Linked DNA regions of Homo sapiens: all the other regions are reported to be linked to region 1. Evidence: microRNA targets listed by miRTarBase, many of them from high-throughput screens and not tested one by one. Region 1 holds a microRNA gene; each other region holds the end of a gene's coding sequence.

Evidence for each region. Region 1 holds the annotated microRNA hsa-miR-4699-3p (AAUUUACUCUGCAAUCUUCUCC, at 1,955-1,976, opposite strand). A microRNA usually pairs through its seed, bases 2 to 8, with sites in the 3' UTR of a target mRNA and lowers its output. Matches are read on the target gene's strand: a 7mer-m8 pairs with bases 2 to 8, a 7mer-A1 pairs with bases 2 to 7 and ends in A, and an 8mer does both.
Region 2: miRTarBase lists RAB18 as a target of hsa-miR-4699-3p. Seed matches in the 3' UTR shown: 8mer at 648-655 and 7mer-m8 at 3,002-3,008.
Region 3: miRTarBase lists DNAJC28 as a target of hsa-miR-4699-3p. The part of its 3' UTR that is shown has no 7-base or 8-base seed match.
Region 4: miRTarBase lists MRPL34 as a target of hsa-miR-4699-3p. Seed matches in the 3' UTR shown: 7mer-A1 at 606-612.

What each region holds. Positions count from the first base shown.
Region 1 is chr12:81,157,250-81,160,408 of GRCh38, reverse strand. It overlaps MIR4699 (microRNA 4699), which reads right to left and starts at 2,021; the gene lies at 1,948-2,021. The region is part of intron 7 of ACSS3 (acyl-CoA synthetase short chain family member 3); the gene reads right to left.
Region 2 is chr10:27,537,525-27,540,683 of GRCh38, forward strand. RAB18 (RAB18, member RAS oncogene family) reads left to right here. Exons shown (of 7, transcript NM_021252.5): 7 at 352-3,159. The coding sequence ends at 527. Among named protein-coding and RNA genes, the nearest start is that of LINC02680, 27 kb to the right of the region's middle.
Region 3 is chr21:33,485,554-33,488,712 of GRCh38, forward strand. It overlaps DNAJC28 (DnaJ heat shock protein family (Hsp40) member C28), which reads right to left. Exons shown (of 2, transcript NM_001040192.3): 2 at 2,502-3,159. The coding sequence ends at 2,674. Among named protein-coding and RNA genes, the nearest start is that of DNAJC28, 4.6 kb to the right of the region's middle.
Region 4 is chr19:17,306,103-17,309,261 of GRCh38, forward strand. It overlaps MRPL34 (mitochondrial ribosomal protein L34), which reads left to right. Exons shown (of 2, transcript NM_023937.4): 2 at 64-741. The coding sequence ends at 277. Among named protein-coding and RNA genes, the nearest start is that of MRPL34, 1.8 kb to the left of the region's middle. RefSeq lists a silencer at 24-83 and enhancers at 2,764-3,159, 3,047-3,159.

The sequences.
Region 1 (3,159 bases):
TGCCTGAGAAGGCAGAGTATGGCATATACCTTCAAAGTTAATTGTTGAATTATTAACAAATAGCCATCTGCCCTTGCTAATCTAGTAAACATACTGAAGAATTTATTGAAAAGGCTTGTTGCTGTGATGTATACCATATGTGAAATACAAACAAATGTAAAATGAGAGCAAACTTATATCCCTTGACTGGAAAAGAAGACTGTTATTACATAAAAATGACAACTGCTATATCAAGACCAATTATACCAACCAGTTTATGGCTTACTCTAAAGCCGGATTTAAGGAGAAACAGTAACTACTAACATTCCATTTTAGACCTACGTAATACTCTAGCCAAGGAACAGTAATCTCATTTCTTGCTTAACCACACCACTGTCATTGTGGAAGCCTGGGCTTACTGTATCATGAAATTGAAATATGTGTACAACACACACTTTTGCACATTGGTAGACAGCAAAGATAAGGAGAAAGGCAGGACACGGAAAGATTTATTTGCCTTAGAGAAATGTGTTGGATTTTGATTCTGCAGATGACAGTCTGGTAAAGGGAAGAAATACTAGAAAGAAGAGAGAGGCAAGGGAGCATATCTCTGTATAATCACCATTTGCCATCACACACATGTGAATGCGCATACACACTAGGCTGTTAGCTAAATTTGTTTGTACATTGCATTCCTATGTGAAAAGATTGCTTGTGTTTTATCCCTTCTCTTTGGCAAAACCATCCTACCAAATATCTGTTCTTGTTCATACACGGTTAGGGTTAGATCTATTGGAATCACTGCTCTATTAATGAAGTAGATTTCTAAAGAAGTACCATTCAATTTTTTCCTCTCAAAAGTAAAGACTAAATTATTCAGAATTGGTTTCCATATTTTAACTGGTCAATCCAATTTTCCTTCAAGAATTGCATACTTTAAACATCTCATACTGCACTGACTGAGCTGGCCAGGTGTTTTGTATTTAAATATGTCCAATTCCATTGATAAAAGTAAATCTCTGTCTATAAAACATATATCCTGACTTATTCCTTTATTATTTGGTAACTTTATTATTCTTTCCTGGTTTTGGGCATATTTTGTTCCTTTTTTCCTAGGTTCTTGAGATAGGAGCTTATATTCTTGATTTGAGTGTTTTCCTCTTTTCTAATCTATCTATTTAGTGCTATAAATTTCCCTCTCAGAAAATAAACTACTTAAATACAGGTGTTCTGTATTTAAATATGTCCAATTCCACTGATAAAAGTAAATCTCTGTCTATAAAACATATAACCTGACTTATATAAGTTGCTCATGCAGTCCTGTTGTAAAAAAAAGAAAATTTAAATTACTCTTACTCATTGATAGAAAAAATCTTTACGTATAAATCAAGTTTTCTTCTGATATTGTCATTCAGGCATTTATTTAACAAATATGTATTAAATACTGAATATGTGTCATTAAGGCAAGGAGCTGAGAATTGACGGTGGACACAAACTCAGATGACTCCTTCCTTAGTACAGTTAGAGGAAAGAAGGGCAAACGAACACATCAAAGGAGCCTAAAGACTAATATGAATCTGCAAGTTTTATACAAACCACCAAGGGAAAATGCAATGTGCTAAAAGACCATGATAAAGGGATTTGACCTAATCAGGGAGGTCAAGGAGGGCTTCCCTGAGGAAGTGACACCAGCTGAAATCTAACAGACAAGTAGCATATATTTCAGGCAATGTTCCTGGGACAGGAATGAGCATAAGAATAACTGCAGGGAAACAGGAGCATGTGGTACATTAGACAGGAGCACGTTGTACCTTGGAAGGAAAGAGAATGATTAGGATCGAGCAAATGGCCAACACTTTCAAATGCTGAGGAGTCAAGCACAGTGAAGACTGAAAATGCCCATTGACTTTGGCAAGTAGAGATGACTGGGGATGTTAGGAAAAGCTGTAGCTATGGAATGATGGTGACAGCAATTGGAGAAGATTGCAGAGTAAATTCCATTTCTTAATCAGGAACTTACTCTGCAATCTTCTCCAATTGCTGTTGAAGCTGTTGAGTGTAGACAAGGCCTTAAAGAGAGAATGTTGTAGCTGTCAGGAGATAAGGGATTAGAGATTTTTGTTGTTGTTTGTTTTAATGAGGTAGTTTTATGAATTTGTTTGAAAATGTGGTAATTATCAGGAAAATAAGCAGATTTACATGCAGTTGTAAGAAGTAATACAGAGATATACCCTTTAACCAGTTTTCCCCAGGTGTAAAAACTGCAAAACTACAATATGTTATCACAATCAGAATATTGATACAGTCAAGATACAAACCAGTTCATCTCTACAAGGATCCTTCGTGATGCCCTTTATGGCCATATGTGGCCATTGCTGATTTATAGAGACACAATGAATATTTGTATGTTAATCTTGTATCCTGAGACTGGGTTGAACTCACTTATTAGTTATGGGATTTGTGTGTGTGTGTGTGTGTGTGTGTGTGTGTGTGTGTGTATTCTGTAATCATTTATGCAAATAATCATGCCATCTGCAAATAAAGACAATTTTATTTCTACCCTTCTGGTGTGTATGCCTTTTCTTCCTCTATATTTCTGTTTATATTTATTTATTTATTTTTTGAGAGGGAGTCTTGCTCTGTTGCCCAGGCTGGAGTGCAGTGTTGCGATCTTGGCTCACTGCAACTTCCACCTCCTGGGTTCAAGCGATTCTCTTGCCTCAGCCTCCCGAGTAGCTGGGACTATAGGTGCGCACCACCATGCCTGGCTAATTTTTGTATTTTTAGTAGAGATGGGGTTTCACCATATTGGTCAGGCTGACCTTGAACTCCTGACCTCATGATCTGCCCGCCTTGACCTCCCAAAGTGCTGGGATTACAGGCGTGAGCCACCGCGCCCAGCTTCCCTATACTTCTTTATTAAATGAGCTAGAACTTCCACAGATATGTTGAATAGAGGGTGAGAGTGGAAATACTTGCCTTGTTCCTGAACAACAGAGGAGAAACAATCAGGCTTTTATGATTAGGTATGATATTAGCAGCAGGTTTTTTCATAGGTGATCTTTTGTCAGGTTGAGGAAGTTCCTTTCAATTACTAGTTTTCTGATAGCTCTTCATTATGAATGAATGTTGAATTTATTAAACAACTTTTTCTACATCAATTAATATGATTATATAATT
Region 2 (3,159 bases), not on the chromosome of region 1:
TAATATCTGCCTTGGGAGCAAGTTGTAAGAGTTAACTGAAAGCTTAAGGAAAAAACTTTCGCTCGCTATTTAAGTAGGGCTTTACAAGTTACAATTCTATCACAGTTTTAAGATTATAAACCAGTGTTTTTTTGGTATAAAATTATATACTAGTATTCTTATGGATAGAATTTAATTAGCTCAATTTTGAGATTTGGAAATTCACTAGTTATTGACCTTTGGGGAAAAATTGCTGATTTGGATCTTAATATATTGTAGGCTGATATTTATGCCCTGATAGTTTCCCAGAAAAACATGAGAATATGGCCAGAAAGGAATATACTATGAATGACCTTTTTCCTTGAATTTCAGAGGCAAGTGCAAAAACCTGTGATGGTGTACAATGTGCCTTTGAAGAACTTGTTGAAAAGATCATTCAGACCCCTGGACTGTGGGAAAGTGAGAACCAGAATAAAGGAGTCAAACTGTCACACAGGGAAGAAGGCCAAGGAGGAGGAGCCTGTGGTGGTTATTGCTCTGTGTTATAAACTCTGGGAAATTCCATCTCTTGCATATTTGATCAGATAGTGACATCTTTCTGTATATAAACTCTTTAACTGCTATTTTAGGGACCTTGCAGTTTGCACATAATTGTTTTATATCATAGCAGTAAATATTTGCAAGAAATCCCACTCATCGACCCCGGGTAAAATGTTATGGTAAGCATGCACAGTTTGCAGTCTACAGTTTTTTTATGTAGCACAAAATAGGTGTACCTTTATAAGTACATTCAATTTTATGATTTACATTTATCATGTAATTTTTAAAAAAATCCATCTATCTAGGATATGTTGATACAAAGTCTGCTTTTGCTATTCTTTTTGCTTAAATACTCCTATCATTTTCTGAATTACTTGGTATTTAGAACTCCTAGCACCACGGGGAAGAATAGAGGTATCATCAAACGTGGCAAATTTTCTTTCAGGAATAATAAAGAGCATGATTCCACAGCTTTTCTGGGATGTTTGAGATTCTTTTTTAGTACTAAGCAAAATTCTCATCACAGAATGTAGCCCAGGCCAATTTATAACTAAATCTCTATTTGTTCGGATGATGCTTCTAAAACAGCATTGATAGGTTAAAGAAGCTTGGTATTTTTAATTTACTTCAATGATTAGCTCAGTTGCTTAACTGGAGTTTTAATCCTGTGATATGTACATTGGATTCATGACTGTGCAGCATTTTTAGTTATGTGGTGTTTGGCAGAATGACAATAAGGTTTTCCCCCATTTTGGTTTCAGGAGGACATGAATAGTGTGTTTATTGTAACTCCTCATACACTTTTAAAACCAACATCTTTTTTCATAAATGTTGGTAGTGTTTGTCCAGGTACCTTAACTGTAGCTTGTGTAATGTTGATGAATATCTGTATCTTACGGCTTCCATAATGGCTAGTTGATATTCAAAAACCTATTTCTGTGTTTTGAGGGGTGGGGAAAAAAAACACTAAGTGATAATTTGAAAAAGGCATATTGCTTCCAGATTCTGATGTGTGAGGGAAAATACTGTCACAATGAAAATCTTGACAATTTACTTAACAAGTAACCAGTAGTTCATCAAAACCAACTTGTACAGACTAATAAATCTTTTTCACAGTATTCAGTTTTCTCACCTCTTGCTATTGTATATTGTAGATTTTTTTCATTCATGTGTTATTTAATTTACACTGATCTCTGCTATTTTAACCCCCCAAATAAGTTATTTGTCCTTTAAGGTTGGTTACTATAATACCCCTCAGTAAGATTCCAGTATTAATTTCTGGGCAGTTTGTTCTCTGTATACAATTGCAAATGATAAGCATTTTTGTGAGTGACCACCTTTGCAATATGTTTGTTAATTTACTTCATGTTGGGTTCTTTCTGAAATGTACATCTTTACATATAAAAACCTCACATTCTACTTGATTTACACTTCCTAGTCTACATTACATGTGGTTGAAGGTTTTATACATTCTATATGCTTTTACTAAATATACAAGATTTACTACTAGAAATTTGGAGAAAGAACACTAACACATGTACTTGTGATTTGTTCATGTTATATTAAAACTTGAGATTTGTGTATTTATGTAGAGTCTGTATTGACAAGACTGTTGTTTTTTGCTCCTTGAGCTATATAATAATCTGTGTATTGGATTGTTGTCTTGATTTGGTCTAAATTTGAATATATATGAGTTACTTGAATATAACAAAAATGAATTTTGTTTGATAGATTTATATTGTAACCTTTTTCTAGTTCTTGAATAAATATAGCCTGCTTTCCCTAGATGCATTTGTGTAGGAAGTATATACATTTCCCTATTACTCTCATCAGCTGAAGAATATGTACTATTGTGTTACTCAAATTATGTGGCTTTCATTTTGTTGTTTTGTTGCAAGCTTAGTGTTTTGTAGTGGAGGTTTTGTAAATGAAACAGTTGTAATATCTAAGGTCAGGCACCTAGTAACAGGGTTTTGTTAATTCTTTTCAGAATCATTGAAGCAGTCTTAAAGGGTCTTTTGCAGATGGTACAAATTAGAACAATTAGAATATAGTATTTTGAGTTCTAGTAGTACTGAGATTGACCCAAACAAATAAAAAACTATTCAATTTCTGAGTAATAGTTAATATTTATTGAAAGCTTCCTTGGTGCCAGATGCCTTTCTAAGTGCTGAATTATCTCATTAAACCTCACAGCAACCTTAAGAGATTAGTACTCCTATTATGCCCATTTTAAAGGTGAGGACAACACAATGTAGGTATGTTAGGTAACCCCCAAAGATCACATAGCTACTCAGTCACTGAGCTGGATTCCAGTCATGGCATTTTTACTTCTGAGCCCATACTCTTCACCATCGCTCATTTTACAATGGGTAGTTAGTTACCAGCTTTTTGTAACACAACCAAGTTAAGGCAGTTCCACTATTTCTTTATCACTCTTTTGTTATATGTAATAGAAGTATTTCACACTTTTGGGTTATAGAGTAAATCCCATGATGTAAACCTACCTCATAAGTCATGTGACATAAAAGTTAAGGTAGTGGAGTAGGTGGTCTTATTTCTTTCACCTGCTCAGAGTGGACTGAAAATCCTGACTTAGAAAAGGTACAAAGTTAGGGGACTTATGGTACCTTCACTTTT
Region 3 (3,159 bases), not on the chromosome of region 1:
ATAGACAACATTTACAAACATAAAGTGCACTGTGCTGAAATTAAAAATTTACTGACATTTTCTGGTAACCTTACCTTCTCATTGACCAATATGGAAAATGGTTTTGTTCATCTATGTTGCTGTAATGCAGTTAAGCCTCTTACGTCTAATTCCCACTTTTTTTTTTTTTTTAAGACGGAGTCTTGCTCTGTCACCCAGGCTGGAGTGCAGTGGCGCGATCTCGGCTCACTGCAAGCTCCACCTCCTGGGTTCGTGCCATTCTGCTGCCTCAGCCTCCCCAGCAGCTGGGACTACAGGCGCACACCGCCATGCTCAGCTAAATTTTTTTGTATTTTTAGTAGAGACAGGGTTTCACCGTGTTAGCCAGGATGGTCTCAATCTCCTGACCTCATGATCCGCCCGCCTGGGCCTCCCCAAGTGCTGGGATTACAGGCATGAGCCACCGCGCCCGGCCTCGAATTCCCACTTTTAACAAGAGTCACAAAATTACTGCCTTCTAAAATGTTTTTGGAACTATAGCTCTTATTAAGCAACATTCCATACTGTTCACAATTTTATTTACAGTGATACTATCATTGTAGAAACCAAATGACAAATCATTCAATAAATTATAATCACATATTATGCCAATTAATGCTGCAGCATCTAAGCTAAAGGCCAAAAATTTCTTTTTGAAGGTGTAGTTTTGTTTGTTGTTTTAACTATCACACATTTTACAAAATAACACTTTCTTCCAAAATGCAGGTGGTGAGTCCCTCACTTCTGAACCACTTCTGTAACACAGCACTCTGGATTAAAGAAGGAAACACTGCACTCCAGCCTGGGCAACAACAGCAAAACTCCATTTCAAAAAAACAAAGTGGCCACTGGACCAGGCACAGTGGCTCGCGCCTGTAATCCCAGCACTTTGGGAGGTTAAGGCAGGTGGATCACCTGAAGTCAGGAGTTCGAGACCAGCCTGGCCAAAATGGTGAAACCCCATCTCTACTAAAAAAAATAAAAATTGGCTGGGCGTGGTGACGGGCACCTCTAATCCCAGCTACTTGGGAGGCTGAGGTAGGAGAATCACTTGAACCCAGGAGGCGGAGGTTGCAGTGAGCCAAGATTGCACCATTGCACTCCAGCCTGGGCAACAAGAGTGAAACTCCATCTCAAAAAAAAAAAAAAAAGCGGACACTGGAGTTTTTTTCTAGAATTGCTAAATCAACTAGCTTCACTGATTTCTGCAGCCAATAAACCATCAAGTTAGACAGGAAAAAGTAGAATCTGGATGTTTGGTGTGTTTTTCATTCAGTACCCACAGAGAAGGCCCTCATAAAAAGAAAAGTACAGTAATTCCAGTAGGCTAATTTTCTGATCTTAATATTTCCACCCATATGGAGGGTGTCCCAAAAGTCTTGGAACGGTTTTGAGCCTTAATAAGTTCAGGAATATAAATCCAGCAAGCTCGTTTAAAAAAAAAAGTCATCTGGAGGTTTAATTGGTTAAATTTCATAACACTTCAGTTTTGTGACTTTTGATAACATATTTTTCGGTTTCCCTGTTGTTTAAGTACCTATGTTTGAAAATGGCAACAGTCACTGCTTTTAAGTTAGTTATTACAGCTCAAAACTGCACCAAAACTTTTGGAATTCATGTATGATTCCTAAGTCAGAAACCTGATCCTAGCTCATTTCACTGGATGACCAACATTTTAACACTAGAATGAACTAAATTATTTTCTTTAGAAGTTTCAGTTATTTTTGGCCAGGCATGGTGGCTCACGCCTGTAATCCCAGCACTTTGGGAGGCCAAGGGGGGCGGATCATGAGGTCAAGAGATCGAGACCATCCTGGCCAACATGGTGAAACCCCATCTCTATTAAAAATATAAAAATTAGGCCGGGCATGGTGGCTCAAGCCCGTAATCCCAGCACTTTGGGAGGCCAAGGCAGGTGGATCATGAGGTCAGGGGTTTGAGACCATCCTGGCCAACATGGTGAAACCCCGTCTCTACAAAAAATACAAAAATAGGCCAGGCGCGGTGGCTCACACCTGTAATCCCAGCACTTTGGGAGGCCGAGGCGGGCGGATCACGAGGTCAGGAGATCAAGACCATCCTGGCTAACACAGTGAAACCCCGTCTCTACTAAAAATACAAAAAATTAGCTGGGCGTGGTGGCAGGCGCCTGTAATCCCAGCTACTCAGGAGGCTGAGGCTGGAGAATGGCGTGAACCCAGGAGGTGGAGCTTGCAGTGAGCCGAGATCGCGCCACTGCACTCCAGCCTGGGCGACAGAGTGAGACTCTGTCTCAAAAAAAAAGAAAACAAAATACAAAAATAGCCGGGTATGGTGGTGTGTGCCTATAATCCCAGCTATTCGGGAGTCTGAGGCAGGATAATCACTTGAACCTGGGAAGCAGAGGTTGCAGTGAGCCTAGATTGTGCCATTGCACTCCAGCCTGGGTGACAGAGCGAGACGCCGTCTCAAAAAAAAAGGAGTTTCAGTTATTTTCTTTTCTTGCTATATCCTCAGGACAAACCTGATAGGTTTCTCACTCACACATCATTGGCTATGTGATTAGTTTTGTGATAAGTACAATGGCACAATTCTTAAATTCTTGTATTATAGCAATAAATCTCATTTTCCATGTAAAGTGTCAGTGGAACTAAGAATGATTTATGATAGTAAACATCAAAATGATCGTATTTTAATAAATTTCCACAGATTCATCCAGTTTAAAAAACCTTTCTTGATTTCAGGTGTTTTCTCTCCTTCTCCTTGATCAAGGTTATTTGGGTTTCTATCTGTGACTTCTTTTGTTTTTATAAGGGTCTCGTATATTTTCTGGGCTCTGACAATTTCTTTCTGAGCATCAAAATGGACTTTTTGCCTGGTCAGGATGGGAACAATTAAATTAAAATCATTAATTCGCTTGTTTAATTTTCTGATGTTTTCTTGAAACTGCTCACAAACATGGTTCCACTGTTTCTTTTCAGTTGGTGTCATTGGATTCCCAAGTTTTTTCCTAGACACTAAAATTGCCTCTCTGAGTTGCTCAATAGTATCGCTTATTTCCTTTTGCTTAAGGATCCATTCTGGTTGGTATCCATTATCGATCAGTATTCGGTTCAGGTTGTGAGTCATGGGATCAATGTAAGAACAGTCAGAAAACTTTTT
Region 4 (3,159 bases), not on the chromosome of region 1:
GTTGAGCGCCAAGGTCACCCAGCGCCCCGTCTGACCTTTCTCGCCGTCCCTCTACCCACGCAGGTGGCTCCAGCCCCGGGCCTGGCTGGGGTTCCCAGACGCCTGGGGCCTCCCCACCCCGCAGCAGGCCCGGGGCAAGGCTCGCGGGAATGAGTATCAGCCGAGCAACATCAAACGCAAGAACAAGCACGGCTGGGTCCGGCGCCTGAGCACGCCGGCCGGCGTGCAGGTCATCCTTCGCCGAATGCTCAAGGGCCGCAAGTCGCTGAGCCATTGAGGATCGCGACGCAGTCGGCGGGACCCTCATGGAAGCATCGCCCTCGCCTCGGACCTTGCCTGGCGCTATTTTTGCAGGGAGCTGGGGAGCAGGAACGCCTCGGACCTGAGTGCTCTCCATATTGTGGGGTTGAAGTCTGGATGGGAGCTTGCCAAGTCCCTTTTTAGGCTTTTTAATTAGGAAGCATTTCGAACCTGCGCAACAGACCAAAGAACAGTACAAAGAACATCCGTGTACCCAGTACCCTGACTACCGACTACCTACAACCCGTCCCTGCCCCATCCTGAGTTCTTTTGAAGCTGATCTCAGGCATCGGATTATTTCTTCTGTAAATATTTCAGAATGTATCTCTCCAAGATGAGAGCTCATTAAAAGACAATTACAAAGCTTATCACATCCAAAAGAATTATCAATAATTTTGAAATATTATTAAACGTGTAATAAATGTTCAAAGTTCCACTTGCCTTATATGTGTCATAACTCTTTTTTTTTTTTGAGACAGTTTCCCTTTTGTTGCCCAGGTTGGAGTGCAATGGGGGGATCTCGGCTCATTAAAACCTCCGCCTTGCGGGTTCAAGCGATTCTCCTGCCTCACCCTCCCGAGTAGCTGGGATTACAGGCATGCGCCACCACGCCCGGCTAATTTTGTATTTTTAGTAGAGATGGGGTTTCTCCATGTTGGTCAGGCTGGTCTCGAGCTCCCGACCTCAGGTGATCCGCCCTCCTCTGCCTCCCAAAGTGCTGGGATTACAGGCATGAACCACTGCGCTCTGTCCCCCAGGCTGGAGTGCAGTGGCACGATCTCGGCTCACTGCAAACTCCCTCTCCTGGGTTCAAGCAATCTCCTGCCTCAGCCTCCCGAATAGCTGGGATTATAGGCGCCCACCACCACACCCGGCTAATTTTTGTATTTTTAGTAGAGACGGGGTTTCAACCATGTTGGCCAGGCTGGTCTCGAACTCCTGACCTCAGGTGATCTGCCTGCCTCGGCCTCCCAAAGTGCTGGGATTACAGGTGTGAGCCGTCATGCCCAGCCTGTGTCATAAATTTTATAGGTCTGGGAAGACTGGTGGAAAACTGTGTGTGTGTGCGGGGGGGTGTTTGTTTTTGAAACAGGGTCTCGCTCTGTCACCCAGGCTGGAGTGCAGTTGTCGGATCCCTGCTTACTGCAACCTCTGCCTCCTGGGTTCAAGCAATTCTGGTGCCTCAGCCTCCCAAGTAGCTGGGATTACAGGTGCATGCCACCACGCCCAGCTAATTTATGTATTTTTAGTAGAGGGGAGTTTCACCATGTTGACCAGGCTGGTCTTGAACTCCAGCCCATAAGGAGTTTGAATCTTCCACTTGTCCCTTGGGGATGTTTGATTTTGAGCAAGAATTTAACACTGTGAGGTGCATTTGTCGCCTATAAAATGCAGTGCTGGTTTCTCCTCTGCTCTGTTGCTGTTGGAGTAATAATACTTAGTAGCTTCCACTTAGCAACTTCACTGTGCAATTGCTGTGTGCTGGGTGCCCATTCTTTGCCCTGGAAGTCAGGAAGGCAGTTTGGACACAGAGGTGTCAGGGCTGGGAGGGGGATTGTGAGGGCTGTAGGACTTCAGGGAAGGTACCTGACTTGCCTTTTTGAAGAATGCAGTCAGGGAAGTCTTGGAGGAAATGGCAAGGTCTGGGAGAGCCCAGACATAGAAGGAATTGGTTAGAGGTGAGGACACAGGTGGGCAATGAAGACCGCAGGTGCCCATAAATGGGGCCAAGGAGGTGGGATTGAATACTAGGGAGTTACGGGAGGTGGTTGAGCAAGACGGTGTCGAGGAGGAGCTAGGGAGTGTTATGGTTCTTATCTTCTAGGGCTGCTTTAAAAACGTAATAAACACAAGAAGATGCCGGCACGATGGCTCCCAGAACTTTGGGAAGCCAAGTCTGGAGGATTGCTTGAGGCCAGAAGTTCGAGACCAGCTTGGGAAACATAGCAAGACCCCTGTGTCTTTTTTTTTTTTTTCTTTTGAGAGGGAGTTTAGCTCTTGTTGCCCAGACTGGACTGTAGTGGCTTAATCTCGGCTGACTGACACCTCCGCCTTCTGGTTTTAAGCGATTCTCCTGCCTCAGCCTCTTGAGTAGCTGGGATGACAGGCGCCCGCCACCACGCCCGGCTAATTTTTGTATTTTAGTAGAGATGGGGTTTCACCATGTTGGCCAGGCTGGTCTCAAACTCCTGACCTCGTGATCCGCCCGCCTCGGCTTCCCAAAGTGCTGGGATTGCTGGGATTACAGGCGTGAGCCACCGTGCCCCGCCTTTTTTTTTTTGAGACAGAGTCTCCCTCTGTCCGCCAGGCTGGAGTGCAGTGGCGCGATCTCAGCTCACTGCAAGATCCGCCTCACTCACGGTTCACGCCGTTGTCCTGCTTCGGCCTCCGGAGTAGCTGGGACTACAGGCGTCCGCCACCACGCCCGGCTAATTTTTTGTATTTTTAGTAGAGACGTGGTTTCACCGTGTTAGCCAGGACGGTCTCGATCTCCTGACCTCGTGATCCACCCGCGTCGGCCTCCCAAAGTGCTGGGATTACAGGCGTGAGCCACTGCGCCCGGCTGGCTTTTTTTTTTTTTTTTTGAGACTGATTTTCGCTCTTGTTGCCCAGGCTGGAGTGCAATGGCACGATCTTGGCTCACTGCAACCTCCGCCTCCCGGGTTCAAGTGATTCTCCTGCCTCAGCCTCCCTACTAGCTGGAATTACAGGCGCAGAGATGGGGTTTCACCATGCTGGCCAGGCTGGTCTCGAACTGCTGACCTCAGGCGATCTACCCGCCTCGGCCTCCCAAAGTGCTAAGATTACAGGAGTGAGCCACCGCACCCGGCCGAACCTCGCATCTTAAAAACACACAGA